2 separate regions of the Homo sapiens genome follow, and region 1 is linked to region 2. The links come from fine-mapping of genetic effects on gene expression. A gene starts in region 2. The other region holds a variant in brackets. All regions are shown on one strand. Distances are between the middles of the regions.

Evidence for each region.
Region 1: its variant is fine-mapped to the expression of MR1 in whole blood (INTERVAL, PIP above 0.99).

The regions. Positions count from the first base shown.
Region 1 is chr1:181,050,656-181,066,567 of GRCh38, reverse strand. MR1 (major histocompatibility complex, class I-related) reads right to left here. Exons shown (of 6, transcript NM_001385161.1): 4 at 14,058-14,333; 5 at 12,891-12,995; 6 at 4,630-11,343. The coding sequence ends at 11,303. Among named protein-coding and RNA genes, the nearest start is that of MR1, 25 kb to the right of the region's middle. RefSeq lists enhancers at 3,721-3,770, 4,411-4,540. The variant T/ATTATTT (reference allele first, on the strand shown) is at 10,204.
Region 2 is chr1:181,027,403-181,043,314 of GRCh38, reverse strand. It overlaps MR1 (major histocompatibility complex, class I-related), which reads right to left and starts at 9,332. Exons shown (of 6, transcript NM_001385161.1): 1 at 9,241-9,332. The coding sequence starts at 9,307. RefSeq lists enhancers at 9,423-9,532, 9,663-9,762, 9,963-10,152.

The DNA.
Region 1 (15,912 bases), 23 kb before region 2:
TGAGGGAGCTTATACTTTTTCCTTTATGCACCAGCATCTCCATATACTAAGAATCAACAAGTAGCGAATGTTATCCACGGGTTTCACTGACATGTCCATGAAATGTGTGGTAACTTGCTTCATTTGGCCCTTTAGGCCTTGTTCAGCCTTTAAGTCACATCATCAAAGTCAGAGGAAAAAGATTCAAACTTTCCTAAATTTATCAGGGCCTTTATTAATTTTTGATTCATTGCACAGATGTTTGAACTCCTTTGTTCCCAAGATTAAGTACAGAACATAGTGTCGGCGAAAAGAATCGAACTCTGTAAAATATTTGAAGAGATTTATTCTGAGCCAAATGTGAGTGAGTGACCATGGCCCAGGAGGTCCTGAGAACATGTGCCCAAGGTGGTCAGGGAGCAGCTTGGTTTTATATATTTGAGGGGGGCATGAGACATCAATCGAATGCATTTAAAAAATACATTGGTTTGGTCCAGAAAGACTGAACAACTCAAAGTGGGGGCTTCCAGGCTATAGGTGAATTTAAACATTTTCTGGTTGACAATTGGTTGAGTTTGCCTAAAGACCTGGGATAGATAGAAAGGGAATGTTCAGGTTAAGATAAAGATTGTGGAGACCAAAGTTCTTTTTAAGTCTTACAGTGGCTTAAAGACAATAGGGGACAAATGTTTCCTATTCAGATCTTAGTTAATCTTTTTAGGATTGGGAGGGTCTGGAAGAAAAAGATCTAGCTATGTTAATAGAGATTCTTTACAGATGCAAATTTCCCCTGACAAAGAACAGCTTTGCAGGGCCAATTCAAAATAAGGCAAAGAAACATGTTTTGAGGTTTAAAATATATATATATTTAAATTAATATTAATATTTAAATTACATTAAAATTGATATATTTAAATTAATATTAAATATATTACATATCATATATATATATGTTTTTTTGAGATGGAGTCTCACTGTGTCACCCAGGCTGGCGTGCAGTGGCGTGCAGTGGCGTGATCTCGGCTCATTGCAACCTCTGCCTCCGCTGGGTTCAAGTGATTCTCCTGCCTCAGCCTCCCGAGTAGCTGGGATTACAGGTGACTGCCACTGCGCCCATCTAATTTTTGTGGGTTTTTTTTTTTTGAGACGGAGTCTTCCTCTGTAGCCCAGGCTGGAGTGCAGTGACGCGATCTCGGCTCACTGCAACCTCTGCCTCCTGGGTCCCGGTTCAAGCAATTCTCCTGCCTCAGCCTCCCAAGTAGCTGGGATTATAGGCACACACCACTATGCTCAGCTAATTTTTGTATTTTTAGTAGAGACAGGGTTTCACCATGTTGGCCAGGGTGGTCTTGAACTCCTGACCTTGTGATCCGCCTGCCTCGGCCTCCCAAAGTGCTGGGATTCAGGCGTGAGCCACCACGCCTGGCCAGGTTAAAATATTTTGATTTTCTTCTTTGTCTGGTAATGTTATGTCAGAGTCAAGTTGGAAAATAAATCATGATATGTAGGGTTAAATAAAACCCATCTGATGAGAATTTATGATTTATAGAGCATGACTCCCCAGTCCCCTTAGATAAGAATTTGGGCAAGATAAAAAAATCAGAGTTTAGTCCTCAATAGTTTTAAGTGGATGACACCTCACAGTTTTGGTCAGGCATTGATGGAGTGGGCCTACTGTGTGCAGATAGGACAGTGCCCTGTGTGCAGATAGGACAGTGCCCAGACTCAAGACAGTGTCTTGAGTCTGAATCATGCCTCTGCCACTTATTAACTATATAACCTTGTCAAGAAATACAATTTATCTGAACTTCAACAAAATAATAATAATAATACCTGCTGCCAACGTTGTTATGAGGAATAGAAGTAATATATGTGAAGTACCCAGTGCATAGTAAGCACCCATAAATGGTGGCTGCGATTATATGGGACATGGGGAGCAGTCCCTGGAGAGCACGTAGAGGAAGACACATCCCAGATGCCATTTCTTTGCAATATGCTTGCACACACACATCTCCTTTAATCCCCACTTTGACACTGGAAGACAGGTATTGACTAGCCCCGGGTTTTATAAAAATGAGGCTCAGAGAAGTTAAACAACTTAAGATCACCCTGATACTAAGTGAAGGACACAGAATTCACATTGTGCCCTTAAGGGGTTTATAGTCCAGCCAGGGAGATAAGCCGAGCAGAAACAGATAAATACCAACACAGAATAGCTAAGTGTCAGTTGAGTGGCAGAGCTGAAAAGCACTTAGGCGTTTAGTAAGGGAATTATTTCTCTGAGGATAGGCTATCAGGAAGACAAAAGGAAACTAGAGGATTAGAAGTTCCTCTGTCTCACTGAACATCTCTGAGTTCCTTGCTGTCGCCATCGCCACTGCCTATGGGTCCTCTTAGCCCAGCCCAGCGGCTGCAGGGAAGGAGGCAGTGCTGAGCCCTTCATCCTCCCCATGTCCTTTGTTTCATGGCATATTTATGTGCAGGCCCTCCCATCTCACTTGAAAGTTTTATTCAACCTGTGTCTTCAGTATTACTATGAAAGCTCACTGTCAGAGTTGTATTTCTTTCTTTCTTTTCTTTTTTTTTTTTTTTTTTTTTTTTTTTTGAGACAGAGTTTCGCTCTTGTCGCCCAGGCTGGAGTGCAATGGTGCAATCTTGGCTCACTGCAACCTCTGCCTCCCAGGTTCAAGTGATTCTCCTGCCTCACCCTCCCAAGTAGCTGGGATTATAGGCACCAGCAACCACACCCAGCTAATTTTTTTGTATTTTTAGTAGAGACGGGGTTTCACCATGTTGCCCAGGCTGGTCTCGAACTCCTGACCTCAAGTGATCTGCCCGCCTTGGCCTCCCAAAGTGCTGGGATTACAGGTGTAAGCTACCGTGCCCCCAGCCAGAGTTGTATTTCTTCTGTTAGCAGAAAACCCAGGGACTGTTTTATAGAAATGCATTCTAGATTACAATCTCTAAAATTATTTTCTGTGATGTGAGCTTGATTTTTCTATAAGCATATGTCTGGGCCATTTTTGTACTTGCTAATTTTCAGAACATCATTGTGCTGTGTTGCCTACAGAGTCTGGCTTGTAGGAGCAGCAGTTCATTTTGTCAATATGCATATGTACTGAGTGCCTACTATGTGCCAGGCACTGAAGTGTCAGGCCTTATGGCGCATATATTTCATGAATGGTTGATTAACTAATGAAGGCCATAAGAATTTGATTTAAATATCAGTATTTGTGGCAGATTATTAATAAGAAACTGGGGTAAAAAAAACTCTGTGGCTTGAATGAAAATATGGTGTATACCATGCCACACAGAAAAAACGAATAATTCCTTGTGGCTGGGGGCAGTCTCTAAAAATGTCATCATTAGGCCCAGAAACATGTCATCTTGTAGACTAATTTCAAGTCTGTGAAGCTGCACTAGTTTACAGATCTTTGAAATTTGATCTCAATTTCAGTTGCAAAGACCTAAATTGGATTAGAACAGCTTGCCTGTCTTCTTCAGGGATCCTCAGGGACCAATGACCATTCAGTCTTTTAACAGTAAGGTGAAGGGCTGCCCATGTGCTCGGCCTTGGTGGGTTACATCTGGTTTGGCAACTTCCTGTTGTGTGTAACACAGGGACTGTGCATTCGTAGCTGTTTCGTGAGTAATATGCAGAGTGCATGTGTTGGGTATTTTAAAGTACGTGAGAGGGTTGTGTTTCAGCAGCTGATGGGATGCCAAATGTTTGACTTTTTATTATTCCAGCCCTTCAGATTTCCCCAGAATTGTCACCTTCTAGAGCGTGTGTCTTGCCAGTGTGTTCCAGGAATTCTCTATTTATGCCACTGTGATGTTGCTCAGAAAACAACAGAGCTTTCGGTTAGTTCAAGTAAACTTAGAATCTGCGCTGATGCCTCAGAAAGGAAGAAAGGCCAGGACGGCCTCGGCTTGGGTGGCACTCTTATTTCTCCCTTGGTTTCACTTCCTTATTTTCGTGGCTTCCCATTTCATCCTGTAGCCTCCTCTCAGAAGCTGTTTCCCCCCTTCCTACTCCCTTCCCACCCCCGGGTTGTTTCCCCGGTTGTTCCCACACTCTAGCCCATTTGTGTCCTCAGAGGTCTGGCCGCTGCCACTGCACCTGCCTCAGACCCAGTGTCACCTCGCCAGGGCTTCAGCCAGCCTGACCTTCCAGCTGCCACCCAGCAGCTCAGCTTAGGGACTCAGAACCTTCTGGCCCAGACCTTCATACCCAACTCCCGCCCAGGGGCAAATGCAGAAGCCTCTGCTGGTGCAGCCAACACGGAGTGGGGGCAAGGCGGAGAGGAAAAGCAACAGCTCAGGGTGTGGTAAGAGTGCTCAGGGTGCTTCCCAGCTCAGGGCATTGGTAAGAGTGGGTGGAATTTGCATGTTAAGAACTTTCATTAACCAAATACCCAAATGGTGACAGAAAAGCAAATTCAGACTAGTTACATTTCTGGAAGGTTTCAGATATTTGGGCCCCCAAGATGGCTGAGAACTCATTTCTCAGCACCTCTTCTCATAGCCTTCGAGAAAAACAGTACCTCCCATAAGAACCTCCGAATTCTATCTTTGTCTTTAATATGTATGTGTTGGGTGGGGTGGGGGTATTGATGGAATGTTTCAGATCACTAATCTCACAGACAATGCAATGACAAGATAAAGTTTATTAGATGGAGAATGTTAATACAGCTGAAACCTTTGAAGAATTCAGACCAGTCCTCAAACCATTCATCCTGAGTACCTGGAATGTTATATGATCTTGAGTGGGATATTTCCCCTCTATGACTTCAGCTGTAAGATGACACTGTTCTTTTGTACCAGTACATGAAGACTAGCTAATTAAAATACTATACTAGTTCATTCAAAAAGTATTTACTGAGTTGCTACTACGTACAAGGCATCATGCAAACAGACTGTGCAGTATTACATAAAATTTTTAAAATAGATTTCCATAAATAAACACCATGATAGGATTATGTAACATCTTCCAGGGAATTTTAACCGTTTGGATGTACTACACAGTGGTTCTGGTTCTACCAGTCTAAATGAATTGACTTGTTTTTTTTTCCACCATCACTCCTCCCTTTCAATTCAATTCATTCATTCTGGTGTGCAGCCCATTTCTGTCTATTTTCTAATGATATGACCAGAGCCACCATGTAGGCTTGTGCCCTGCACAAGGATAGATACCCCACTGGGGAACAAACGGGACCAAAATCTACTCTGTGTTCTGCTGGCCAAGCCGGGTGACCTGGCCTGGGCTGGCGTCCTCCCAGAAGAAGGGTTCATTTTTCCAGTTTGCACACATGTGCTATTTGTGGGTTAGCTGAGGCCCTGCTTATGTCTTCAGTTGGTTCACAAACCAGAAACAGAACAAATGGCCATCATTTGATTACAAATGTAATCAAACTAGATTTACAACCAAGGCTTGCTGAGTGGCATTATGGGTTTTATCCTGTTGCATGGCAAGCCGCTCATGCACGGGCTGTGCTCAGTGTCCTTTTTCCTCAGCCATGCCAGCCATGGGGAAGCAGGAGGGGAGCTTGTTGGAGAAGGTGGCCTCAATGAGAGCCTTGGTGCATTCCCCTGAAGCCACAGTTTGGGGCTTCTCCCTCAGCAGGGGTCTCCACAGTCTGAGTGTTTTCAGAAATCTTATATCCAGGGGACCCCAAATCTTATGTCCAGGCCCCAGGGTCTGAACTCATATTTAAGTACTGAAAGGCATCAGCATCTCCCCTCTGGTTGAACTTGACCTTCTTACTGAGAACCAGCCAGGCAGGCATCAGAAGCCTCAGGCTCCAGAGGAGAAGCTGGTGGGCAAATAGGTCAGGAGCAACTGCTTTCACCATCAGGGATGAAAGTTGAAGACCAAGAACACTTCCTTGTCCTGTGGTGCAGGGGTTGGGATGGAGGGGTGAGTCTTATAAATGGAAGAGAACTAAGTGTTGTGATTTAAAGGAAGAACATTTGCCTCCTGCCCCCAAATGCTCCCAAACTCTCCAAAATTCCACAGATTCCTTTGGCTTAACTCCTTTCACAGAGGTAAGCTAAGGTAGTCAGTCTCACTGTAGTTGCGGTGAATTCATTTAATGATCTTGGTTTCCTAACTGCTAGATAATCCAGTGGAGCCAAAAAATTTTGGTGGATTGAGGGAACCTACAGAGGTTGGGTAGAGATGTGTTAGGAGTTGAATTGTTTCCTCCAAAAAATTCATGTTGAAGTTATAACCCCCAGTACCTCAGAATGTGGCCTTCTTTGGAAATAGGGTTGTTGCAGATGTAATTTGGGAAGGTGAGGTCATCCTGCAGTAGTAGAGTGGGTCCCTAATCCAGTATGACTGATGGCCTCATGAAAAAAGGAAATTTGGACACAAAGCCATGCATGCAGGGAGAACACCAAATGAAGACTAGAGTTACGCAGCCAGAAGGCAAGGAACAACCAGAAGATAGGAGGGAAGCCTGGAACAGATCCTTTCCCAGTCCCTTTAGAGGCAGCATGTTTCTGCCAACACTTCATTTTGAACTTCTGGCCTCCAGAACTGTGAAACAATAAATTTCTGTTGTTCCAAGCCACCCAGTTTTTGTGGTACTTTTAAACGACTACCCTTGGAAACCAGTACAAGGTGGAACGGGGAGACGATGGAGAACATGACATTGTGACATGTTGCATCTTTCCCAAAATGGCCACAATGATATCTCCCAACTACATGCTCTTCTTACAATGTAACTCTGACAATCTTCCTATTGAGTGTTGGGTTCTATACACCCTCTTTTTGAACCTGAGCAGGATTTTATGACTTCTTCACCAATGAGAGTATCACAAGAATGACATTTTGTGACTTCCAAGATTAGATTATATAAATGCTATGCACTTTGACTGTGATCTCTTGGGATACTCACTCTGAGGGAAGCTAGCTGCCATGTAAGCAGTGACTGCCCTGAGGCCACCATGTTGTGAGGAAGCCCAACCCACACAGAGAGATTACATGGAGAGTTCCTGAGACTACATGGAGGAGATGTAGCTGATGCCTGGCCACCACCCCTGGCTGCCCCATTTCTGTTCCAGCCACCACTTGCCTCCAACTCCATGAGAAGCCAGAACTGCTTACCCAAGCCATATCCAAATTCCTGACCCATAGAAACTATGAAAGAAAATAAAATGGGTATTGTTTTAAACCAATAGGTTTTGGGTTTTGTTACACAGTCTGTGGGGTTTGGGGCAACCAGAAGCTAGAAGGACAATGGAGAAAGGGAGGCCAGAGTGAAAAGGAGATGCAGAGATGTTACAGAGACATACAATGCTCAAAGATGGCAATTTCCAAAGAAAGAGAGGTGAAGGCAGCTCAGGCAGTGGAATCATCAACCTCTAAAAAGCACAATGTACTGAATGTCCTGAAGCTATTGGGGAAAAAAAAAAGATGAAAAGGGCAATGCAGTTAAGTGGGAAACACCTGGGCTGGGAGATGCCTGTGCTTCTTCCTAGCTCTGCTGCCCACAGCACATGGCTATGGGCAAAGCCCCCTGTCCTCCTTGGAGAACATTCTGTGAACTAATACACTGTGTGTGAGAAAATAGCAAACTCCAGAGAGCAGGTGCTAACAAGCAAGAATGTGTCCCCTTGCACCAATTCTGGGGTCATCAAGCACTCTACAGATTGTGATTTAGTTGTTCTTATGTAGATTTTCCTGCTGGAAGGTGTACTGACCAGCTGAGACAGATATCTGACCCACTTAGCAATTGTGTTTCTCACAGTAAATTAATACATTGGCACTCCACTTTATATATCCATCTGATCACTTTGTGGGGACACTAGACCTGCATATGTGAGGACAAAGACCCCAGACAGTGGTTTTCAAAATAAGGTGTGACTGCTCTGTGTGACTCTGGCAGAAAATGATCAGCTGGCCTCCCTAGTGGACAATCTGTTCCTCATAGCTACAAGTGCAAAAACATCTTCTCTCAGGCCAAAAAAAGAAGAGGAGAAACCAAGTCATTCCTCAGAAATAAGGAAAGGATCACAACTTGGAAATCATGGGAGTAAGAGGAGAGAGGAAAGGAGGACTGGCCCCTGATGGGAGAGCTCAGAAACTCTCGATGGAGTCTTGTTGGATTTTTCACCCTGCTCTTTAAACTGCTTTCTCTCCCTTAAATGTACCACATCAAAAACATCTGCCATTTAAATTTACCACATCTTGGTCTATATGCACATCAAAAACAAACAAACAAAAAAAACAAAAACAGGTAATAAATACAGTGGAGTTAAAAAAAAAAAAAAGAACAGAGTTGAACAGGTTTCTCATCTAGTGTTCTTGATCCAAAATATTCAGTAAAGAAAATTCAAAGCCAAAACATAGCTGTGGCAATAGCACAGTTATTTGTTTTTAATGTTTAGATCATGGTGTCAAATATTTCATAGGTTATGATTACTGAGCATCTGTACTCAACAACCATGAAGTAATGAAGCAATAACAAGGCTAAAACAATTAAGAAGTAATATAATCTTCAACCATCTATAGTAAAATGAAGGTTGCAGAATTTTAGGTATTACTTACTTATTTTATTTTTATTTTTTTGAGATGGAGTTTCACTCTTGTTGCCCAGGCTAGAGTGCGATGGCGCGATCTCGGCTCACCACAACCTCTGCCTCCCGGGTTCAAGCGGTTCTTCTGCCTCAGACTCCCGAGTAGCTGGGATTATAGGCATGCGCCACCATCCCCGGCTAATTTTGTATGTTTGGTAGAGACAGGGTTTCTCCATGTTGGTCAGGCTGGTCTCGAACTCCCGACCTCAGGTGATCTGCCCACCTCGGCCTCCCAAAATGCTGGGATTACAGGCATGAGCCACCGTGCCCGGCAGTATTTTTTTTTTAATCATCTCTTTATATTATGATTCTTTTAGTATTATAAAATCCCCCAGGAAGAAACATAAATGCTACAAGTGCATAACAGAATGTTTTGTCATCACATCCTTGTCCTTGCCTCCTCTTCATCCATTTGGACATATTATGTGTTAGGTGTAGGGCAAGGCCTTGGAAACACAGAGGCTTTTTATCTGTGTCTTTGATGAGAGTATCCTGCAGTTGCAGAATCAAAAGGCATTTACATAGATACATTATCACCTGTGTCTATGTAAATATGTACCTTTTCACTTTAAATGCCCACCCAAAAATATATTACATCCTAACTATTCTGATTGTAAGAAGAAACCATTCCAGAAATAAACTTGCCTACATTCTCTTCACAGTGCAACACTGCTTAAAAGTGGCACGGAAATTGCCCATGGCAACCCTAAAAACAAAATAAACACAACTGTGCTTCTATGCAACTCAACAGGCACCGGAAAAGAGAGATGTACAGTGGTAGCTTCATATATGGAATTACATGGGACAGTGGAGCAAGGAGGAAGCCTGGCAGGTGAGCTCTTAGAGGCCTGGCACACTGAGGGTATCTTTCTTTTTTTTTTTGGAGACAGAGTCTTGCTCCGTTGCCCAGGCTGGAGTGCAGTGGTGTGATCTCGGCTCACTGCCACCTCTGCCTTATAGATTCAAGTGATTCTCCTGCCTTAGCCTCCCAAGTAGCTGGGACTATAGGCACATGCCACCATGCCCAGCTAATTATTTGTATTTTAGTAGAGACAGGGTTTCACCGTGTTGCCCAGGCTGGTCTTGAACTCCTGAGCTCAGGGAATCCGCCTGCCTCAGCCTCCCAAAGTGCTAGGATTACAGGCGTGAGCCACTGTGCCCGGGCTGAAGGTACCTTTATCTGAGGCTGTAATGATTAAAGCCAAAGGTCAAATGTCACAGTCAAGGTCAAGGGAGAGCAGAGGTCAAACCTGAGGTGCAGGACAAAAGCCACTTGTCAAAGTTCAGGTCACTGAAGTAAGCATTAGGGCTCAGGTGCAGAGTCAAACGGGGTCAGAGAAGTAGGACCGAGGAATGTGTGACTGGCAGCCCCAGGGCAAGTAGCTCCACATGGCAGGGCAGTAGGTGAGGCCTCAGGGGTTGGGGATAGTAAGGAACATTAAGGGGATGTTCATTCTCACCATGGGCTTTTATTGATTCCCAGTGCATATGTATGAAGACAACCTATGTAGGAAGGCAAGTCATGCCCAGCTACCATGAGCCAGCACAGGAAAGGCAGAAATGAGAATTGAGCCCTCTCCTGACACCAAATATACTGTTATTATTATTATTATTATTATTATTATTATTATTATTATT[T/ATTATTT]TGAGATAGAGTCTCACTCTGTCGCCAGGCTGGAGTGCAGTGGCGTGATCTCGGCTCACTGCAATCTCTGCCTCCCGGGTTCAAGCAATTCCCCTGTCTCAGCCTCCCAAGTAGCTGGGACTACAGGCACGCAACACCATGCCCAGCTAATTTTTTGTATTTTAGTAGAGACAGGGTTTCACCATATTGGCCAGGATGGTCTTAATCTCCTGACCTCGTGATCCGCCCGCCTTGGCTGCTCAAAGTGATGGGATTACAGGCGTGAGCCACTGCACCTGGCCATACTGTTATTTTTACATTAAAATAGTGCAGCTGGGTCCAGGTCTCTGTAGTTCCACTGGAGGTGATGATATGTCTGATAATTATTTCTCTTAATTTCCCACAAAAGACAAAAAGGGTGAGACTACCTCCATAGATCCAACCGGGCAGATTACCAAGATTCCAAGCTCCCAGGCAGGGTTGCTGTGAACAGCAGGGGACTTTGGCTTTCTCTCAGGCCAGAAAATGTATAAAAATAATCAGTCCATTCCCAGGCCATTGTAGAAACCTGCCGGCTACTCTCATGGAGTGATCCAATCCTACCTGTAGGGTCACAGTCATGGTGCCCATGATATTCAAAGCGCTTGTACAATAAATGTTCCCATGAAAGATGAATGAGAAAGGCCATTTTATGAAGTACTGAGGTTCCCTTCACATGGTGTTCAAGTGGAGGCTGGAGGCTCAAGTCCAAGGCATTGCAGAAGACAGTTCCTGCTCTGGTTGAAAAGATTCCTTCCTGCTCTGAGAATCTCCAACTAGTTGCAAATCATCATTGACAAATAGAATGTAGGGAAGCGTTGTGTCATGAGACAAGCTGTATTTAAAGTCAACTCTGATAAAACAGTCCATCAAAAGAGACTGAAAGCTGACAGTCTTTTTGGAGCCAAAGAACAAAGAACATTTTGTGGCTCCTCTGTTGCTGCCATAAATGCTCAATCCCATTACTCTCATGTATGTTGTGGGTGTCGTCAGGACCTTCAAGCACTAGGCTTGACTCTATGGGGGACAGAGGATAACATGGCTCCTAGAGGAAGGAGAACTGGAAAAGAGGGATCTGCAATCATCGATCTGGTGTTGGAAGGTAGATGGCTCCATTTTGCTCTGAAAGGAAAGGGGTTTTTAGTCAGATTACAAGAATGTTTCCTCACAGCTCAAAAATAAAGTATGCAGTGTTCAGCAAAATCTGAGAAACAGGCATCGACAGTTTTAGCTTGCTTTGTCAAGATTCTCTTAGTACTTGACAAACTTTAGCTCAAATTTGTAAACTCTATAAGATAAAAAGCAGGAACTCACAGTCTGTATAATTATTGAGAGAGGGATGTCATTGTAAAAAAATTTTTTGTTTGTTTCACTATCATTTATTGGATTAGGATTAGTGCTGTACTTTATCTATAAAGAAAACATTAACAACCCATTAACTCTCTGAGCTGATTTTCTTTTCTTTTCTTTTCTTTTTTCTTTTTTGAGACAGAGTCTCGCTCTTGCTGCCCAGGCTGGAGTGCAATGGAGCGATCTTTGCTCACGGCAACCTCCGCCTCCCAGGTTCAAGCGATTCTCCTGTCTCAGCCTCCTGAGTAGCTGAGATTACAGGCATGTGCCACCACGCCCAGCTAATTTTTTTTTTTTTAATATTTTCAGTAGAGGCAGGGTTTCACCATGTTGGCCAGGCTGATCTCGAACTCCTGACCTCAAGTGATCCGCCTGCCTCGGCCTCTCAAAGTGCTGGGATTACAAGTTGTAAGCCACCACGCCCGGCCTCTGAGCTGATTTTCTAGTAAAAGGGTTGGTTTTACTTTGATCTAACAACATGCTTTTGTACAGTTATCACCTGAATTGGAGTTGAGGTCTATGTCTATGAAGGAAAACCAAACTTCTGGTCCACTTTGGGTTCAAAGCATGGTCTCATCGGTACTATCCTGTGATCAATTTGAGCAATTAGTGAAGCCAGAGCCAGGAGATAACCTTACCAGGCTCTATTGTAAGCTCTATGAAAACAGGGATCGTATCTGTCTTGTTCATTGTTATATCCCAGCAACCAGTACAGTGCCTGGAGCACAGTAGGTCATTAATGTATACTTACTGAATGAATTTATGTTATTCCACATTATCAAGAGCCTATATATCTCCTACTTCTCCTCCCCTTTTCCTTACTCTAAGTCCCATTCCCTGAAGGTATCTACTCTTACATATTTAATGTTTTGAATAATGAATTTACAAGGAAAAGGACTTTCATATGCTTGGGATGAAAGAATGGTGGTCAAAATGGGAAAACTGACTGAAGTCTTGAAACAAAGGACACTGCCCCAGAAGTCAATAGTAATTAATAATAAAAAGATGGTTTGGAAAAAGACAAATCAAGATCCCCATATCTTCTCTGACCCAACTTCTAGGGGGACAGTTCCCCTGGACAGATGTACTAGTTTGTTGATGTCAGGCATCACCTATGAAAAGAGACCACTCTCCCTGTAAGCTTTATCCATGCTTTGTGTCCCCTACATGGTGGGAGGGTTGTCCCAGGTCCTTCTGTGATCCCAGCCTGAGAGCCAAGCCATTTCTGAATGGAGGAGGGAGCAGCAGGTGCAGAAAATAAAACTGGAGAGATGCAGGAGAGTCTGCAGCCCCCTGGATCCCTTCCATGTGCCTCTCACCTCGGGGCCTTCTTCTCCAGACTAGAACACCAACTCCAGCCAGCACAATGACAAGGACAATGGACCCAGAGACAGCTTTCATCACAAGAGGGATAGTTTCTGATTCTGAAAGCAAGCAAATGAGAAAAAATCCACAAGTCCCCTTTCCCTTCTGTGTTAACTTTCTGGGACTTTTGTCCCTGTGATCATCAGGAAACCCAACACCATTTTCCTTACTGTTGCTTCTCACTCATCAATCTGACCACTAATGGAATATCTGCTTGTGTTTTCTTGTGTTTAATTTTTTTTTTTTTTTTGAGACAGCGTCTCACTCTGTCGTCCAGGTGGAAGTGCAGTGGTGCCATTATAGCTCACTGCAGCCTCAACCTCCTGGGCTCAAGCGATCCTCCCACCTTAGCCTCCTCAGTAGCTGGGACTACAGGCGCATGCCATCATGCCCAGCTAATTGTTGTGTTTTTTGTAGAGATGAGATCTCAGTATGTTGCCCAGGCTGGTCTTGAACTCCTGGGCTCAAGCAGTTCACTCGCGTCAGCCTCCCAAAGTACTGGCATTACAGGAGTGAGCCACTGCGCCTGGGTTGTGTTTTTTTGTTTTTTGTTTTTTTGTTTTTTTGAGAGGGAGTCTTGCTCCCTTCGCACAGGCTGGAGTGTAGTGGTGCGATCTCGGCTCACTGCAACCTCCACCTCCCAGGTTCAAGCGATTCTCCTGCCTCAGCCTCCAGGAGCTGGGATTACAGGCATGCGCCACCATGCCTGGCTAATTTTTGTATTTTTAGTAGAGATGGGGTTTCACCATGTTGGCCAGGCTGGTCTCGAACTCCTGACCTCAAGTGATCCACCTGCCTCAGCCTCCCAAAGTGCTGGGATTACAGGCATGAGCCACTGCACCCATTCGTGTTTAATTTTTAAATTTTTAATTTGTAATGTAGTAAATAGCAATAGATATAACCCACATCAGCAAAAGCTCTCTGGGGTCCTCAATAATTTTTTAATAGTATGAAGGCGTCCTGGTTCCAAAAAGTGTGAGAACCACTTATTTAAAAGACCCATTCTAAGGCACACTGAGTGAGGCAGTGATCTATCCTCCCCTCCCTGGCAGCGAGCATGGTTTCCTGCTCACCCCTTTCTCCAGGCTCTCTCCCTAGACAGCCACGATCCCCGTCCTTACCCTGGGGGACCTGAAGAACCATGTGGACACCGCAGTGCTCCACATGACAGGAGTAAAGGTTGCTGCTCTGAGGATCAAGCTCAATTGATGCCCACGCCTGATAGGTTCCATCCCCACTGGGAAGAATGTCTCCATAATCAATTTCTTGGACAATTTCTTCCCCGTTTTTCATCCATGTCATGTAAATTTCTGGGGGGTAAAAGCCATGAGCTTTGCAGAAGAGAGCTGTAACCCCTGGAAAAGTTTCTTTGCGATTTACTCTGACCAGTGGGGGCTCTAGGAAGAAGAAGCTAAAGTTAAATCAAAGTGCCTTATGTACTGAGCATATAATATTAGAACTTGGCAACTGGCTTTCCTAATTTTTCTTTATTGCAGGAAACTTCTAAAGCTAAGAATGACCCAGAACTCAGGTTCATCAACAACAAACGTATTTACGTATACCTTCCATGATGGCAAGGTGCTAGGTAGTGAAGAATGTGGAGTTGGCCCATGCTCCATCCTCTAAGGGGGGAAAGTCATACAGCTTTGACTGTTTGGAAAGTGTGCTGGGGTTGTTTACTAGTAACCTTTGAAATACCTTTATGTGTCAAGGAAAACTGACCCATAAAATGTGTAAGTGACTGTTCCCAATAAGTAAGTCAGCAATAGATTGGAGATTAGAACTCCTTGTTCTCATTTCTGTGTTTAGTGCACGTAAATAACACAGCCATCCCCACTCAGTTTTGGCTCCGAATTGCCTTGTGTACTTGCGCTGGCATTTTGATGACTGCCATCAGGTACAAACATATGTAGTAGATCATGCCATGGTTGTGCCTTCGAAGAAACTGATATCATAGAAGGGCTCCAGCAGTGACACCAAAGAAGTACCCACGTGTGACCTTGCTTCCTCATGACTACTCTTAATTTTCCATACAGTCCTGTCCTTAATGTTTCTTGCTGAAATTGGGTCAAACAGCCATACCGAGACCAAAGGCACTATCTGGGGGGGACTGCTTCCTGCTCATCTCTGACTTGCCTCCTGACCCCCACCTTATCATCGGCCAACCCAATACGGAGAAGAGCCTTCACTCCAACAATGCTTTCCTTGTCTCTTTACCGAGGCATGATATTTGGTAGTAGAAAAAGGCTTTCCAACATTAAAAGTAAAATAAATGCTACTAGGAGGGACTGTGCTTTTTGATAGGGCCTGTAAGAAATTAATCCAAGATCCTTTTCTAGGAATGTGTTTTTTCTTTTCTTTTTTTTTTTTGTTTGTTTTTTTAGGAGTGTGTTTTGACCAAAAGGTTGAAAATCCATTAGGACACTGAATGTAGACAGAGGCCTGGAGAGGGGAGCTTCCCATACTCTTCCCACACACATTGTATCTAGGAGTTTCCTGTAGCATCATACAGGTGTGATTAATTTTGAATAACAAGACCATACATGAAAAGTTCTATATGAACTAAAAGTTGACCAACTGAATCATATCTTTAAGGTATAAGAGGAGCTCTTTGCTGAAAGGAATCTTATCATTAATACTTTTTTTTTTTTTTAAATAGGGTCTTGCTCTGTGACCCAGGCTGATCATGATCATGGCTCACTGCAGCCTTGACCTTCCAGGCTCAAGAGATCCTCCCACCTCAGCCTCCTGAGTATCTGGGACTACAGTCATGTGCCACCATGCTCAGCTAATTTTTTTTTTAATAGAGACAGGGTCTCACAATGTTACCCAGGCCAGTCTTAAACTCCTGGCCTTAAGCAATCCTCCTGCCTCAGCCTCCCAAAGTGCTAGGATTACAGGCATGAGCCATCATGCCCAACCTCATTAATCCTTTAGTAAAGCAGAGACCTTCTGTTTGTCTTGGTAAATCCAGAT
Region 2 (15,912 bases):
GCTGCAATACTGAACAGGATGGAGGCTGGCCTCCCACAGGCTGGGGCAGCATAAGGTCCCAATGTCCCTCTGTATTGCTTTGACCTTTTACTTCCCCCTTCCCTTCCTGTGGTGGGTGAGGGCTTGGGTTGGGAGGGAAGACAGTGGAAGCCTCTGGGGTAGTCATGAGAGCCTCTTCATAAAAGTGTTGGTTCTTATGCAAACAAGAGCCAGAGATTGCATCAGAGCATGAGTTCTGTCGTAAAACCAATAGCTACCAGATTCTGCCTTCTGTTTCCCTCTGCTTACTACCTTCTACCTGCTTCTCAATCTTAAAGCACTTAAGAACAGGGACTTTGCTTTTTTCCTTTGTATTTCCTGCAAAGCTTAGCACAGGGAGCTTGGCACATGGTAGTAGCTTGGTAAATATTGGGTGAATTAAATTGTTGGTGAAACACTTTATTTCTGTGGTTTGGAATAATGAAATATGCTGAAATGAATATGAATCTATTTAACCTGGATCTTTTTTGAGACAGAGTCTCATTCTGTCGCCCAGGTTGGAGTGCAGTGGCGTGATCTCGGCTCACTGCGGCCTCTGCCTCCCTGCTTCAGGCAATTCTCCCTGCCCCAGCCTCCCAAGTAGCTGGGATTACAGGTGCCCACCATCACGCCTGGCTAATTTTTGTATTTTTTTTTAGTATAGACGGGTTTTTGCCACGTTGGCCAGGCTGGTCTTGAACTCCCGACCTCAGGTGATCTGCCTGCCTTGGTCTCCCAAAGTGCTGGGATTACAGGCGTGAGCCACCGCACCTGGCCTAAAAAATATTTTTGATTTGGCCGGGCGCGGTGGCTCACGCCTCTAATCCCAGCACTTTTGGAGGCCGAGGTGGGTGGATCACCTAAGGTCAGGAGTTCAAGACCAGCCTGACCAACATGGAGAAACCCCATCTCTACTAAAAATATAAAATTAGCCAGGCATGGTGGCGCATGCCTGTAATCCCAGCTACTAGGGAGGTGAGGCAGGAGAATCGCTTGAACCTGGGAGGTGGAGGTTGTGGTGAGCCGAGATCGCGCCACTGCACTCCAGCCTGGGCAACAAGAGCGAGACTCCATCTCAAAAAAAAAAAAAAAAAAATTATCTTTGATTCAAGGGAAGGCTGGTGAATGGAGAGTTGAACTGCAATCTGGGATCTGCAAAGGGTACTATATATATTCTGCAATTGATTTTGAAATAGTTCTATTTTTTCACATCTGGAAAGTTTTGTGGCTACACTGGAGGTACACAACTGTCTAAAGAAGGAGGACCCAAAAGGAGGAACAAGTTGTGAATATTAGTTCTCACACTTCCTTAATATTGATTTGTATATCCAATGCTTCTTCTGTGCCAGCCACTCTTCTAGGCCCTAAGCTTGTACCAGACCAAACAGATAAAAATGTCTGCCCTCATGGAGTCTACACCCTAGTCGGGGGAAGGGGAGAAGACAGACTAGAAAATAAAATATATAATTTTTTTAAAGTACAGTGAAGAAAAATAAAACTGCAAAGAGGAATGGGCAACACTATTTAAAAAAGGAAGGCGTATTAAGGAAGGTTTCCCACAAAGCTGAATTCTGAGCAAGTGCCTGCAAGGAGTTGGGGAGACAGGCAGGTGTCTGGGGACAGCAGTCTGGACAAGAAGGGCCATGCAAAGGCCCCTGGAAAGAACATGCCTGGCACATTCCAGGAGCAGCACAAAGGCCTGTGGCTGGAGTTGAGGGAGTGAGGGGAAAAGAAAGAGGGAGGAATCACTTCCATAGTTTTTCATGGGAAAAAATCCCCACGGAGAGCAGACTCCAGACAGAGAATGTGGAGAGGAGAAAAAAGAAGGAAGAAAAAAAGATGCTGTGTTGCTGAGCTAAGCTGGGTTGGTGTAGAACATCCCCTGGAATCTGGGTTTTCTATTTTTATGATCTCTGAGGTCTACATTCCTGATAGATGCCAACAAGCAAAAAAACCTCCAGTATTAACAACTTGGGGCATTAGTGCCCAATAGCAGGATTTATTCCAGTTAAGTATCACCAGCATCATCTCCAAACATAATATTTACAATTCATGTAACTTTGCTTTCTTATAAAAATGTAATTTTCACAAGAATTTGCATTATCTGAAGTTAAAAGAGGTAGATAGAGAGAAATATGGTCTGTTGACAATACTGTCCAAGTAAGTATTGTGCTTTATTTATTTATTTATTTATTTATTTATTTATTTATTTATTGAGACAGAGTCTCACTCTGTCACCCGGGCTGGAGTGCAGTGGCACAGTCTCTGCTCACTGCAACCTCTGCCTCCCAGGTTCAAGCGATTCTCCTGCCTCAGCCTCCCAAGTAGCTGAGATTACAGGCGCCTGCCACTACACCCAGCTAATTTTTTTATTTTTAGTAGAGATGGGGTTTCACCACGTTGGCCAGGCTGGTCTTGAACTCCTACCTCATGATTCCCCCTGCCTTGGCCTCCCAAAGTGCTGGGATTACAGACATGAGCCACCGTGCCTGGCTGTGTCTTTCTTTCTTTCTGGGTTTTTTTTTTTTTTAACTTCAATCTAATTCTGATGCCTGGTTTTGAAACAGTTGTTCTCCACCAGCCAGCCTTGACTTCAAAGTCCAGGCACCTAAAGGCTGGACTTGCTTTTTCAGTCACACCCATCCACCACTGGTTCAGCCCAGCGTGGCTCTGCTCCAGGACATCACAGTCCCTTCCTCTTCATTTGCCATGGGCCCAGTTACCCATCTGGTGCCTCCACAGGAACAAGTCATGCTTGCTCCTTAGCTGGGCCTTTAAAATGTTACCTCTGCTGTGGTGGGAAGTTGATTGACACATGTTCAGTCAGTAACTCACAACAGAAAAGATGAGGAAAAGTCCAGGTACCCTCTCTCTCCTAGTACATTAAAACTTGTGATAATTTATATCCCACCAGGATTTGTTGCAGACATAATCAGATTTCGAATCATTTGGAAAGGCCAATATTTTACCATTTTTGACCTATAAAAATGGCAATTTCATATCATTTGATCTAATCTTCCATTTCTCTTTTCTCGCCCTAATAATTTTGAAATTAAGTCTCTCTCTCCCTTTCCATGAACAGATAGATCATCAGCATCAACTCACTTATTAAGCTGAAATATACAATTTAGAATTTGGTATTCTGTCTAAACCAGTCAAGCTACTTCTCAAAAGGCATCTCCTGCCCAGTCTCATCAGCTTCTGACAGATAGTGCTGGAGAACCCGAACGACACAACCAAAAACTCTTAGGCTAGGTGCAATGGCTACTTGATAGTTCTAAATCATGTTCCCTTTAACCTGTCCATTAACCAGTTGGGCCATTCTTACAAAAGGCTGTGAAAATCACTGGATTGTAAAATAATTGATGAAGTGTTTTCACTTCATCCATGAGGGCAATTTTTCTTTTCTTTTTTCTTTTTTTTTTTTTTTTGAGATGGAGTCTCGCTCTGACACCCAGGCTGGAGTGCAGTGGCATGATCTTGGCTCACTGCAACCTCTGCCTCCTGGGTTCAAGCAATTCTCCTGCCTCAGCCTCCAGAGTAGTTGGGATTATAGGCGCCCACCACTACACTCAGCTAATTTTTGTATTTTTAGTAGAGACAGGGTTTCACCATGTTGGTCAGGCTGGTCTCGAACTCATGACCTCAGGTGATCCACCCACCTCAGCCTCCCAAAATGTTGGGATTACAGGCGTGAGCCACCGCGCCCGGCCTCATGGGGGCAATTATTTATTTAGTGTCTACTATGTACAAGGAATTGGAGGCAATGTTAGGAAGAGAAGAACAAATCAAATACCAGCTCTTTCCTCCAGGAACTTACAGTATTATTGGGGAGCTAAAGCACATAACAAATAAATGAATTCCACCACACACGGCAACAAGCAGCAAGCGCCAGAAAAGAGTACCAATGGAGTGCTCCAGCCACTAGGAGAAGAGAGACCGTGGTCCCATGAGAAGGGATCCACTGGGAAATGTTCCAAGGAGGTGGCAGATCAGATGGGCCTTCAATGAGGCATAAAGGGCAGCAGCATCTTAATCATAGTCATCACAACTGTATTTGTTTATTGAGCACATACCTTGTGTTAGGTACCATTTTAAGCCCTTGATAAGCATGGGTTTCACTTATTCTTCTAACAAACTTTTGAGGTAGGTCTTATAATTCCAACCCACAGATAGAAAATAGGTGCAGAGAGGCCGGGTGTGGTGGCTCATGCCTGTAATCCCAGCACTTTGGGGGGCCAAGGCAGGCGGATCACCTGAGGTCAGGAGTTCAAGACCAGCCTTGCCAACACGGAGAAACTCTGTCCCTACTAAAAATGCAAAAAATTAGCTGGGTGTGGTGGCGCATGCCTGTAATCCCAGCTACTTGGGAGGCTGAGGCAGGAGAATCGCTTGAACCCAGGAGGCGGAGGTTGTAGTGAGCCGGGATCACGCCATTGCACTCCAGCCTGGGCAATAAGAGCAAAACTCCATCTCAAAAAAAAAGAAAAGAAAATAGGTGCAGAGAGATTAATTGCCCAAGATCATCCTCAGAATCCATAAGTGAAGGAACCAGGAATCACACTGTGATCTCTCCATGGGAAGTCCCTCTACCTTGAGACTACCCAACCCTCCCTAGTGTAGGGGAAGCTTTCCAGGCCAGGCTTCTAGCCCCTGGATTATCACTGCTCTCTCCTGCCCCCTTGTGTCAAGGATGACTCACTGCCTCTGATTTCCCAGTCCCTGGGGCCACAGGCTCCAGACCTTCCTACACACAGGTGGCCGTGAGTCCTGATTGGATAACCAGGTCAACACAGTCTGATTATTTATTGGCTCTCTCAAGAAGTCCAATGCCTTAATAAGGTCAAAATGATTATGATTCCTGGGAATGACTCTTTAGAATTTCGAGCATCGTGGGAATGAGGGGAGAAGTAGGTGGCAATATTTTTAGTTAAGGGGACCTTTGGACACATCTCAGGCCATGTTCATGGATGGTTCTATGTGCAGCAAGAACCATTAGTCCCCTCTCCTAATGACATGTCTAACTAACTACAGGAACTTAGAGCATAAAAGTGGCGACTGTGACAAGTTTGGCTTGTGAGCTACTCTTCTGAGGCTACCCTTTTGAAGGTTGCCAATGTCTCACTTCATATAGGTATATTCTTTTCTGAATGTCCAATAAGCACAGTCCTAGCTGCTGGAAACAGAGCAATGAACACATGAAAGTCCCAGCCCTGTGAGATAATTTCTAGACAGGAGATTGGCAATAAATACATATATAATACAAGGTCAGGTGGAGATAAAGATTATGAAGAAAAGTAAAGCAGAGAAAAGAGAGTGTGGAGAGGAGAAGGCCTGATCTTTTAGATAGAGGGACCACAGCAGGTGGCATTTGAGCAGAGATGTGAATGGAGTAAGAAAGTGAGCCCTGTAGGACTATGTGGAGTTTTGGAAAACGAATGAATGAGCTCTGGTGTCTTTTTTCCCTCAGTACTCTCTGTACACAATGATGACTATATGTCTTATGTTTCCCAGAAAATCCCGATTTTATAAATTTTATTTTTCTAAAATGATCCTTTGAAGTTATAACAAAATGTGACTTAATATGTATACTCTTGAAAGATTTTCCCCGATAAATATAAATTCATACATCAGAAAAAACATCCTTTGTCATCTTTCTCAATTTGAGTTCCCTAAAATAAGTGTTCAAAGAGTCATGTGTTTGATCTTTAACTTAGGCTCCTTTCCTCCAGCTCTTAGCAATACTGTGGGGTAAGAGGATTGGGGTCAAGTGAGAATAGACAGATATTTCAACTAGTCAAAAGAAAAATCTACAAATTAGTTGAATTTCTCAAGTTTAGATAGATTCAATGCCAATTAAGAAGAGGGCCTTAGGGGAGTGAAACATTGTCTTGGAGAAATTTCTATGGCATATACCTTGGCAACAGCTCCATGGAAACAGACTGAAGTCTATCTAATAAAGTCTAAAGAAAAAGCCCATATTTTCTCATGTTAACTCTTTGAACTCAAGGTCACTTCTAAGCAGATAATATGCAAGTCTGTTTTTTAACAGTAACCCAGTTGGCAGCTTAGGGAGCTTATCCATCATCAGACCTCGCCTGTGAAGGACTCCACCATTCATGAAGTAGATTGATATAGCAGATTTATACAGCCATAAAATTATGAGTAATATCAAGAGACTGACCTTGGTTATGTCGAGATGAAACATACAAATCACATATGGCAATGCATGAGAAATCTCATGCCAGCCCCCAGTCTGATTACACCCACCCATATCGCCAATTCACAGTTTCACACAGGCTGAAATGAAGAACAAGATGAGTTGTAAAAGCATGAAACACCTTTTTAATACAAATCCTGCAACTACAGTAAGCCACAGTTTTGAATTTGCAGTCGTTATTACTGCCCGAGCTCTCTATGGCTCCCAGTCAAATAACTGTGATTTCTTAGGGACATTACCTCCGAACATAAATTCACTCAGCAAACATTTACTAAGTGCCTGTTGGGCACTAGGTATACCAGAGAAATAAGAAAAAAATGAAGATATCTCTTTCTGTCTTTAAGGAGAGCCTCAAAGAGAAGATTTTTGTAAATGGAAAATTACAGAACTGTGAACAGGAGCCATGGGAGCACAAAGGAAGGAGGAGTCAACTGCAGGCTGTGGAGTTGATGAAAGCAACACACTGAAAGTGATATTGGAGTTATGTTGACATTTCCTGGAGTAATGACCCACAACCCTGCAGTATCTCTTCCCCGTGTTTCCCCATCTATTACTGGTATATAGCTCCCACTCAGGGCTAGCACTAGGCATAAATATCAAGTAGACTGAGTCTTCTTTCATAATCTCATATCCTTTTCCAGCCAATATCCCTCAAAGCCCAGGAATGTTCAGTTAGGGTCCTAGCAGGAAACAGCCTTCAAGCCAGATGGGTCATGTGAGGAGACCTTAATGAAGGGACTCCTTGCAGAGATATGGTCAAGGTTAACGGAACAAACAAGGATGATGGGCATCTGCAGGCTAACAACTATGGGAAGCCATTATCACCCCTAGGGCTTAAGAGATAAGAATAGCAAATACCGTTACTGAAGCCCAATGGGAGCTAGAACCATGAAGAAGGGGTTATTCAGGGAAGACAGCATTACAGAAGAACATAGCTACTGCCAAAGACATCACAGAAAGTGGGGAAGGAGCAAGAAAGATGTATCCCAGCCTCTCTTTCCTCCCTGCTCTCTGACATCTCTCCTTTCAGTGTCTCCCATTGTATGAACCCAAGCAGAAATCAGCTTGCAAGAGAGTCTAGGTGATGCAGTCTAGCAGTCAGCCTCAAGGACACAGAACAGAACAGAGAAGGATGCACTCTAAGGAGTCAGAAGGAGAACAGCCAGCACCAAGTGACCTTCCCTTGCCTTTATAACTTACTTGTTTTATTTCCTGTCCCCCCAATTATCAAAGTGACAAGTCTTCACACCCAAAGGAGCAATGACATTGTGGAACAGCCCTGGACCGAGGGCCAGAAGATCTGCAGTCTCCTTCAGGTTGCTCCTTATGTGAGCGTGGTCACTCTCTAGGCCTAGAGAAAAATCTAGGCCTCATCTTTAAATGGGGATATTTTCTTCACCTACTACAAATAGTCAGTGAGATTGTCATAGGAGATAATATGTTTAAGGAATATTATTCCATATTATTGGAGAGTTCTTTGAGAATCACATGCAGGTAATATATAAGCTTTATTATTTCCAAAAATATCACCCTTTGCCTCTCTCCTCCTTTCCTCTTTCATCTTCTGCCTCTTACCCTCACCCCCAATCTTTCCCATAAATGATGACACTTTCTGGATTAAATTTTCATGGAAGCAGAGACTATGTTTGTCTTGTTCGCTGCCATATCCCCCAAAGTGCCTGGCACATAGTAGGCCATCAATCAATATTTGAACAATTAATATATGGATTTTTTTTTTTTGAGATGGAGTCTCACTCTGTCACCCAGGCTAGAGTGCAGTGGCATGATCTCGGCTCACTGCAACCTCCGCCTCCTGGGTTCAAGTGATTCTCCTGCCTCAGTCTCCCGAGTAGCTGGGATCACAGGTGCGCACTGTGCACAGCTAATTTTTTGTATTTTTAGTAGAGATGGGTGTGCCGAGCTAATTTTTTGTATTTTTAGTGAGATGGGGTTTCACTATGATGGCCAAGCTGGTTTCAAACTCCTGACCTCAAGCGATCCGTCTGCCTCGGCCTCTCAACGTGCTAGGATTACAGGTGTGAGCCACCACTCCCAGCCATATGATTTAAAATTTTTTTATTTGTATAAATTTATGATGTACACATGCAATTTTGTTATAGCATAGATTGTGTAGTGGTCAAGTTGGGGCTTTAAGGTATCCATCACCCAAGTAACACACATTGTACCCATTAAGTAATTTCTAATCATCCACCCCCCTCGCCCTTCCAAATCTCCATGGTCAGTCATTCCACTCTCTATGTGCATGGGTGATTTGAAAGAACTCCTTCCTCTCATGTTCATCAGTCACACCTATGGTGGTGGCCAAGTCTAAGTTCTGGACACTGCCCACCAGTACCAGTCCTCAGCCCAGGGAGCAAGTGATTAGGGCAGAGAAGCCTGGTGGTTCTAGCCCATGGGCCCTTTCCCCTATTTGAGGCAACAGAAGGCATTTGCTTCCCCAGTGACTTGAGCTCCCCGAATAATGAAAAACTCTCCCTTCTACTTGATTAATACTTCTCACAGTCAGTAAACAAACCCAGAGCCATGGTTTTATCTTTCTTGGATCTTTTATTACAGGTAGGGCTTGTGTTGAGGAAAAACATAAATAAACCTGAACAATGGATCTACTCCACTGTTAATGCCCCTGAAACTCTGACTACATCCTCATGAGACTCTGGAAGTTAGAAAAGAGGAGAAACAAAAGTAAAAGAAAAAATATGAGCAGAAAAGAAAGGAGGCCATGCTCAGAGGGAAAGTGAGGAAGTTCCAGAGTCTTTCTAGAACGGCTCCCCCTCCCTCAGAAGGTGGTGACATCAAAATCCTACAAATATGAACTGGGAAACTGTTCAGGCAATCCATTGCTCCTGGAGTCTGAGTGTAATACATACACGTTTCTGCCCCTGGCTTCTATATTTTTCACCACAAGTTTTAGGAAGAAAAGCTGTGCCTTCTAGGCTGCCTCGACTTTGGAGTTAGGAGAGAAGAGGACGTGGGATACTCACGGGAATCGCTGTGCTTCACCATTAACACAATGATGAGAGGTAACAGGAACGCCATCAGTTCCCCCATAGTCCTTCTCTTTCCGGGTTCTTTTAACCAAAAACTGACAGGTCCCTTCTGAGAACCTCTTGGTGACACACAAGGCCTTCTCCCAATAAGAACAGGGGAAGATATGCAGTGTCATCAGTTGCTAGGTTAAAAAAAAAAGATAAAATGAAAGCATGAACACCTTCTTCGGTAACTTTTAAGTCTTTGCTGGTTTCAGACACTGCTTGCTCCTTTTGGTGTATCTATCTTCACCCTATTCCCAATTTTTAAATATTTATGGAGCATAGTCATGTTCAAAGCACAGAGAAACAAAGATTAATCATATCTGGTCAATCAGGGAGCTCAAGCTGCTGCCTCTGCTTCCCTGGAGCTTAGAATTTTGCTTAAGGGTCAGTAAGAAAGAGTCACAGTTCCCACGGCTTGGAACTCCCTGCTCTGGCTCCCTATGATGCTGAAGTCTCTGTCTGAGATAGCAGGTGTCACTTAGATTGTCCCGTAATCTTCAACTTAGGTCTGTCCTCCCTGCTACTCTAGCACCCAGCACAATAAGCTCAAAACACTTACTGAATAAAAGAAGGCAAGAGAAAGGCCTACAGAAGATTCTGAGGGGCAGCCACTCAGCTTGCTCAATCAGCAATCCCCAAGATCAAGCTGTGGCTACACTGTCATAAGGAGCACATGACAAGCTGGAAAACAGCAGCTTAAGCTTGTCCAGGGAGCTAGGGAACAGGCCCAGACAGGAAAGAGGAAGTAGACATGAAGGGGAGAGGTGAATGGAGGCATGGCCATGAGGCAGGCAGGCTTGAGCTGGGTTCAGGGACCTGGGTTTGCCTCCCCACTATTTGACCATGGGCAGAATCCCAAATTGCACCAAGGCCTGATTTCTTCAACTTTAAAAGCAAATCCTGTCATATATTTCACAGAGTTGTTGAAGGATCAGAAGTTCTGTTTATGATGCATTTAGTAGGTAGTAGAACCTTATGTACCGGTTGTATGGTAGGTTGAGAATTGTCGCCCCAAAGATGTCCACAACCTAATTGCCAGAACCTGTGGATATATTACCTTAAATGGCAAAAACAAAATAAAACAAAACAAAACCCTTGGCAGATATGATTAAATTAAGGATCTTGAGACAGAGAGCTATCCTGGATTATCTGGTGGACCCAGTGTAATCAGAGGGGCCTTATTAGAGGGAGGCAAAAGGGTCAGAGTCAAGGAGATGTGACAATGGAAGCAAAGGTCAGAGTGATGATGCCATTGCTGAAAGAAGGACATGAGCCAAGGAACGCAGATGGCCTCTAGAACTAGAAAAGAGAAGGAACAGATTCTCCTTAGAGCCTCCAGAAGGAACACAACACTTTGATTTCAGCTGATAGGACACATTTTTGGACTTCTGTCCTCCAGAACTTTGAAAGAATAAATTTGCATTGTTCGAGGCCACTAAGTTGGTGGTAATTTGTTATAGCAGCAACAGGAAACTAATAGGTCTACCTTTACCCAGAATAAAATAAGAAGCCAAATAATGAAATTAACATTTGGCAATCTCTCAGCGGCCCCTGGCACCTTCTCTTCTCAGATCTTTGTATTTCTCTCTTCCTTTCCTTTCTGTTTCTTTACATTGTTTTTCCTTTTGTTACTCATTTAACAAATACAGTCACCTGGATTTCTCTTTTGGAAAACTCCCCCAATATTCCCAAATGTCTCTCAGCACTGGAATTCCATGGCCATGTATTTTTTCCTTTGAATTTTTGTTAATATCTTGTTCCAAAATGCATTCCATACCATAACCTGCTGTACTGACATTAAAAAGTAGGTATGAGGCCGGGCGCGGTGGCTCACGCCTGTAATCCCAGCACTTTGGGAGGCCGAGGCGGGCAGATCACGAGGTCAGGAGATCGAGACCATCCTGGAACATGGTGAAACCCTGTCTCTACTAAAAATACAAAAAATTAGCCAGGCGTGGTGGTGAGTGCCTGTAGTCCCAGCTACTCGGGAGGCTGAGGCAGGAGAATGGTGTGAACCCAGGAGGTAGAGGTTGCAGTGAGCTGAGATTGTGCCACTGCACTCCAGCCTGGGTGACAGAGCAAGGCTCCATCTCAAAAAAAAAAAAAAATGTAGGTATGTCAACGATGTCTTTCTTTTTTTTGAGACAGAGTCTCACTCTGTCGCCTAGGCTGAAGTGCAGTGGTGCCATCTCGGCTCACTGCAACCTCCGCCTCCCAGGTTCAAGCAATTCTCCTGACTCAGCCTCCTGAGTAGCTGGGATTACACACCCAGCTAATTTTTGTCTTTTTAGTAGAGATGGGGTTTTCCCATGTTGGCCAGGCTGGTCTTGAACTCCTGACCTCAGGATCCACCCACCTTGGCCTCCCAAAGTGCTGGGATTACAGGCGTGAGCCACCACACCTGACCGATGTCTTTCATTTTTTAAGTCATTGTATTCTAATTGCAAATTAGTAAATTTAATCCAGAGTACAGGGCAAATACATATAAAAAACCCAGAGAGTGATAAGATAAAAATCACCCATCAGAAAAAATTGCTGTTGGCCGGGCATGGTGGCTCACACCTGTAATCCCAACTTTGGGAGGCTGACGTGGGCAAATTGCTTGAGCCCAGGAGTTCAAGACCAGCCTGGGCAACATGGTGAAACCCCTATCTGTACTAAAAATACAAAAAATTAGCCAGGTGTGGTGCATGCGCCTGTAGTCTCAGCTACTTAGGTGGCTGAGGTGGGAGGATTGCTTGAGCCAGGGAGGTCAAGGCTGCAGTGAGCTGAGACGCCACTGTACTACAACCATGGCAACAGAAAGAAAGAAGGGAAGGAAGGAAGGAAGGAGAGAGAGAAGGAGGGAGGAAGAAAGGAAAAAATTTGCTGTTAACATATTTTAGTGTATTTCTTTTCAGTGGTTTTGCTGACTACATATGTCTGCATATAAGCATACCTTTATTTGTTCATTTTACCAAAAAAGGGTTTTACGTCCTAATAGTATTTTGTAAATTCTTTTCAAATTTATATTTTCCAATATTAATATGCAGTTTTTAATAGCATAGCTTTAATAGTCCTTAAAATTTTTAATAGATTCAATTATGCCAAGATCTTCAAGGACAGGTAAGACTGCCCCACTAAGCTGGGAGGCACTGAGGTAGGGAGAATCCCTCGCATTCTCTTTGTGGAAAAACAAGCCTCACCTCTGAGCAATAGTCTAAACTTAAATCTCAGGCCGCACTTTTCAGAGTGGGTTGTGCTTATCCTGTTCATTATAAATCCCTTTATGTGTTTGGCTTTTTAATACCTGATTTATTATATGTATTTTAAGGCCCCTCTGAGGAATCTGACTCATTTGCAGTTAGTGCAATTCATCCTTAAAAACCAAATGATGAATTATCAAGTTAGCAAAAGGGTCTTGTTTGTTAAATAATGTTGTTTTCAACATAATATATTTTATTATATTTAATCAGTAGTTTCCCCTTGGCTATTTCTTTTTTAATTCAGTAGAAGTGTGTGTGTGTGTGTGTGTGTGTGTGTGTGTGTCTGTGTCTGTGTCTGTGTCGAGTTTGATTTGAGCCCTTTTCTGTGGGTAGGTAAAATCCATTTGCCAATTTTTGGCCAAGGCTAGTCCTTGTACAAATGGGAGTAGAATACTGTAGCAAAGAACATGGGTTCAGGAGTCAAACTTATTTTCAAATGAGGCTCTGACATTTCCTACCTATGTGACCTTTGACCAAATTATTAACTTCTCTAAGTCTGGGATTTCTCATAGAAAATGGAGGTAATAACCAATTCTGCCTTACAGGATTATTGTGAGGATTCAATGAAATCAGCAGTGGTGGAACCAAGAAGTGACTTGTCACTTGTTGGGGCATTAGAGTACTTTTACTACACACGCATAATGGCCATCAGCTGTCTTAAGTAATCCCAAATAAACCTATAATTTAAGAAAAGAGGCCAGGCGCAGTGGCTCACGCCTGTAATCCCAGCACTTTGGGAGGCCAAGGTGGGCAGATCATGAGGTCAGGAGATCGAGACCAGCCTGGATAACATGGTGAAACCCCGTCTCTACTAAAAATACAAAAAATTAGCCGGGCGTGGTGGTGGTCGCCTGTAGTCCCAGCTACTCGGGAGGCTGAGGCAGGAGAATGGTGTGAACCTGGGAGGCAGAGCTTGCAGTGAGCAGAGATCGCACCACTGCACTCTAGCATGGGCGACAGAGTGAGACTCCATCTCAAAAAAAAAAAAAGAAAAGACAGGGGTCTCCCATGCCACATCAAGTCCCCTAGCCCTGCTGTCCAACCAAATTACATTCTAAAACCTGCCCCATATGGGGATTCTGGAGCTTCTGAAGATAATGCATGTGTGTCACTGTATTTGTTTTCACACTGCTGACAAATACATACCCAAGACTGGGCAATTTACAAAAGAAAGAGGTTTATTGGACTTACAGTTCCACATAGCTGGGGAGGCCTCACAATCATGGCTGAAGGCAAGGAAGAGTAAGCCACATCTTATGTGGATGGCAGCAGGCAGACAGGAGCTTGTGTAGGGAAACTCCACCTTATAATACTGCCAGATTTCATGAGACTTATTCGCTATCATGAGAACAGCACGGGAAAGACCTACCTCCATTATTCAATTACCTCCCACCAGGTCCCTCCCACCACAACACATGAGAATTCAAGATGAGATTTGGTTGGGTACACAGCCCAACCACATCGGTCACTTAGCACAATGCCTGGTACATAGTATGTAAATATTAGCAATCACTAGTACTATTATTGCAATGAGCCAGTTTACCAACACAGATTGATTTTTCTTTCCTTATACACAGTCACATTCATAAAGGATGGTAAAGAACATACCTCCCCTTCCTATAGTGGTTCAAATCCACCGTCTTGTCAAGAAATTCACTGAATTCCAATAACGTATTTCAGCTTTTTAGTACTCACCAATTTCCATTCATTCAGACCCTCCTAACTTGCCTTATTCTAAACAGGATTTAAAACTGTTATTTATTTATTTATTTATTTATTTTTTTGAGACAGGGTCTCACTGTCGCCTAGGCTGGAGTGCAGTGGCGTGAATATGGCTCACTACAACTTCTGCCTCCTGGCTCAAGTGATCCTCCCACCTCACCCTCACGAGTAGCTGGGACCATAGGCATAAGCCACTACACTTGGCTAATTTTTGTATTTTTTTTTTGTAGAGATGGGGTTTTGCCATGTTGCTCAGGCTGAAAACTGCTAACTTTTGATGTACTTTTTCGTATGTGGTCACTTGGCTTTTCACTTCTCTTTTATTACTTTTTCTCTTCTTTTTAAAAAACTTTTTGGATTTCTGACTATCCAAGTAAATATTTCACTGTAGTAGTTGACAAACTTTAAATAGATTTCTTTTTTCCTACGTGTAAAAATTTTCTATGTACCAAAACATTTTAATGTATAAGAAAGAACAGAGCTGAAATTGTATCATATGTATAATTTTGTGTCTTGCTGTTTTTACTCAAGCCATTCCTATGTCATTACATACTTTTAAACAACATTTCTAATGACCACCAAATGGATGTTCCACAAATTCTCCATCATTCCTTAGTGCTGAATATGTAAATTGACTGGAATTCCTCCTTGTTTATTTTAAATCAGTGTGTAGAGGGTGACAGTGGTGGAGGTGTTGGTAACAAACAGGAAGAGGAAATAAATCATGGCCAGTGTGTTTTGGATATGTGTATGGATATTTTCTGTGGTTGGAGGTAGGAAACATAGACAGTCATAGCCAGATCAATGGAACTTAACATAAGTGGAATGTTCTGGAATATGTACATGTATATCAGGGTTTCTAAAAGGTTGGATAATGATGAAGAGTATGATATCCTATATCTATGTTAACACTTTTCTCCCTTTCTTTACCTTGTTTCAAGAAGGATTTAGGGTGAACTCAACAAAAACAAAACAACTCAATCAAAAATGGGCAAAGGACTTGAATAGACATTTCTCCCCACCCCCCAAAAAAGATATACAAATGGCCAATAAGCACACGAATAGGTGCTTAACATCACTAATTATTAAAGAAATGTGAATCAAAACCATAATGAGATACCACCTCACACCTATTAGTACAACTGCTATAAGGGAAAAGAAAACCCAGAAAATAACAAGTGTTGATGAAGATATGAAGAAATTGGAATGCGTGTGTCTTTTAGCAGGAATGTAAAATGGAAAACAATATGACTGTTCTTCAAAAAAATTTAAAATAGAATTACCATATCCAGCAGTTCCACTTCTGGGTATATATCCAAAATAATGGAAAGCAGGGTCTCAAAGAGATATTTGTACACCAGCGTTCATAGCAGCATTATTCATTATAGCCAAAAGATGAAAGAAAGCCAAGTGTCGTCCACTGATGGATGAATGGACAAGCACAATGTGGTATATATACAATGGAATATTAGGCTTACAAAGGAAGGAAATTCTGCAATATGTAGAATGAATGAATGAACCTTGAAGATATCATGCTAACTGAAAGAAGCAAATCATAAAAAGACAGATCCTGTATGATTCCACTTATGTGAGGTACCCAGAGTAGTAAAATTCATAGAGACACACAGTAGAATGGTGGTTGCCAGAGATTGTT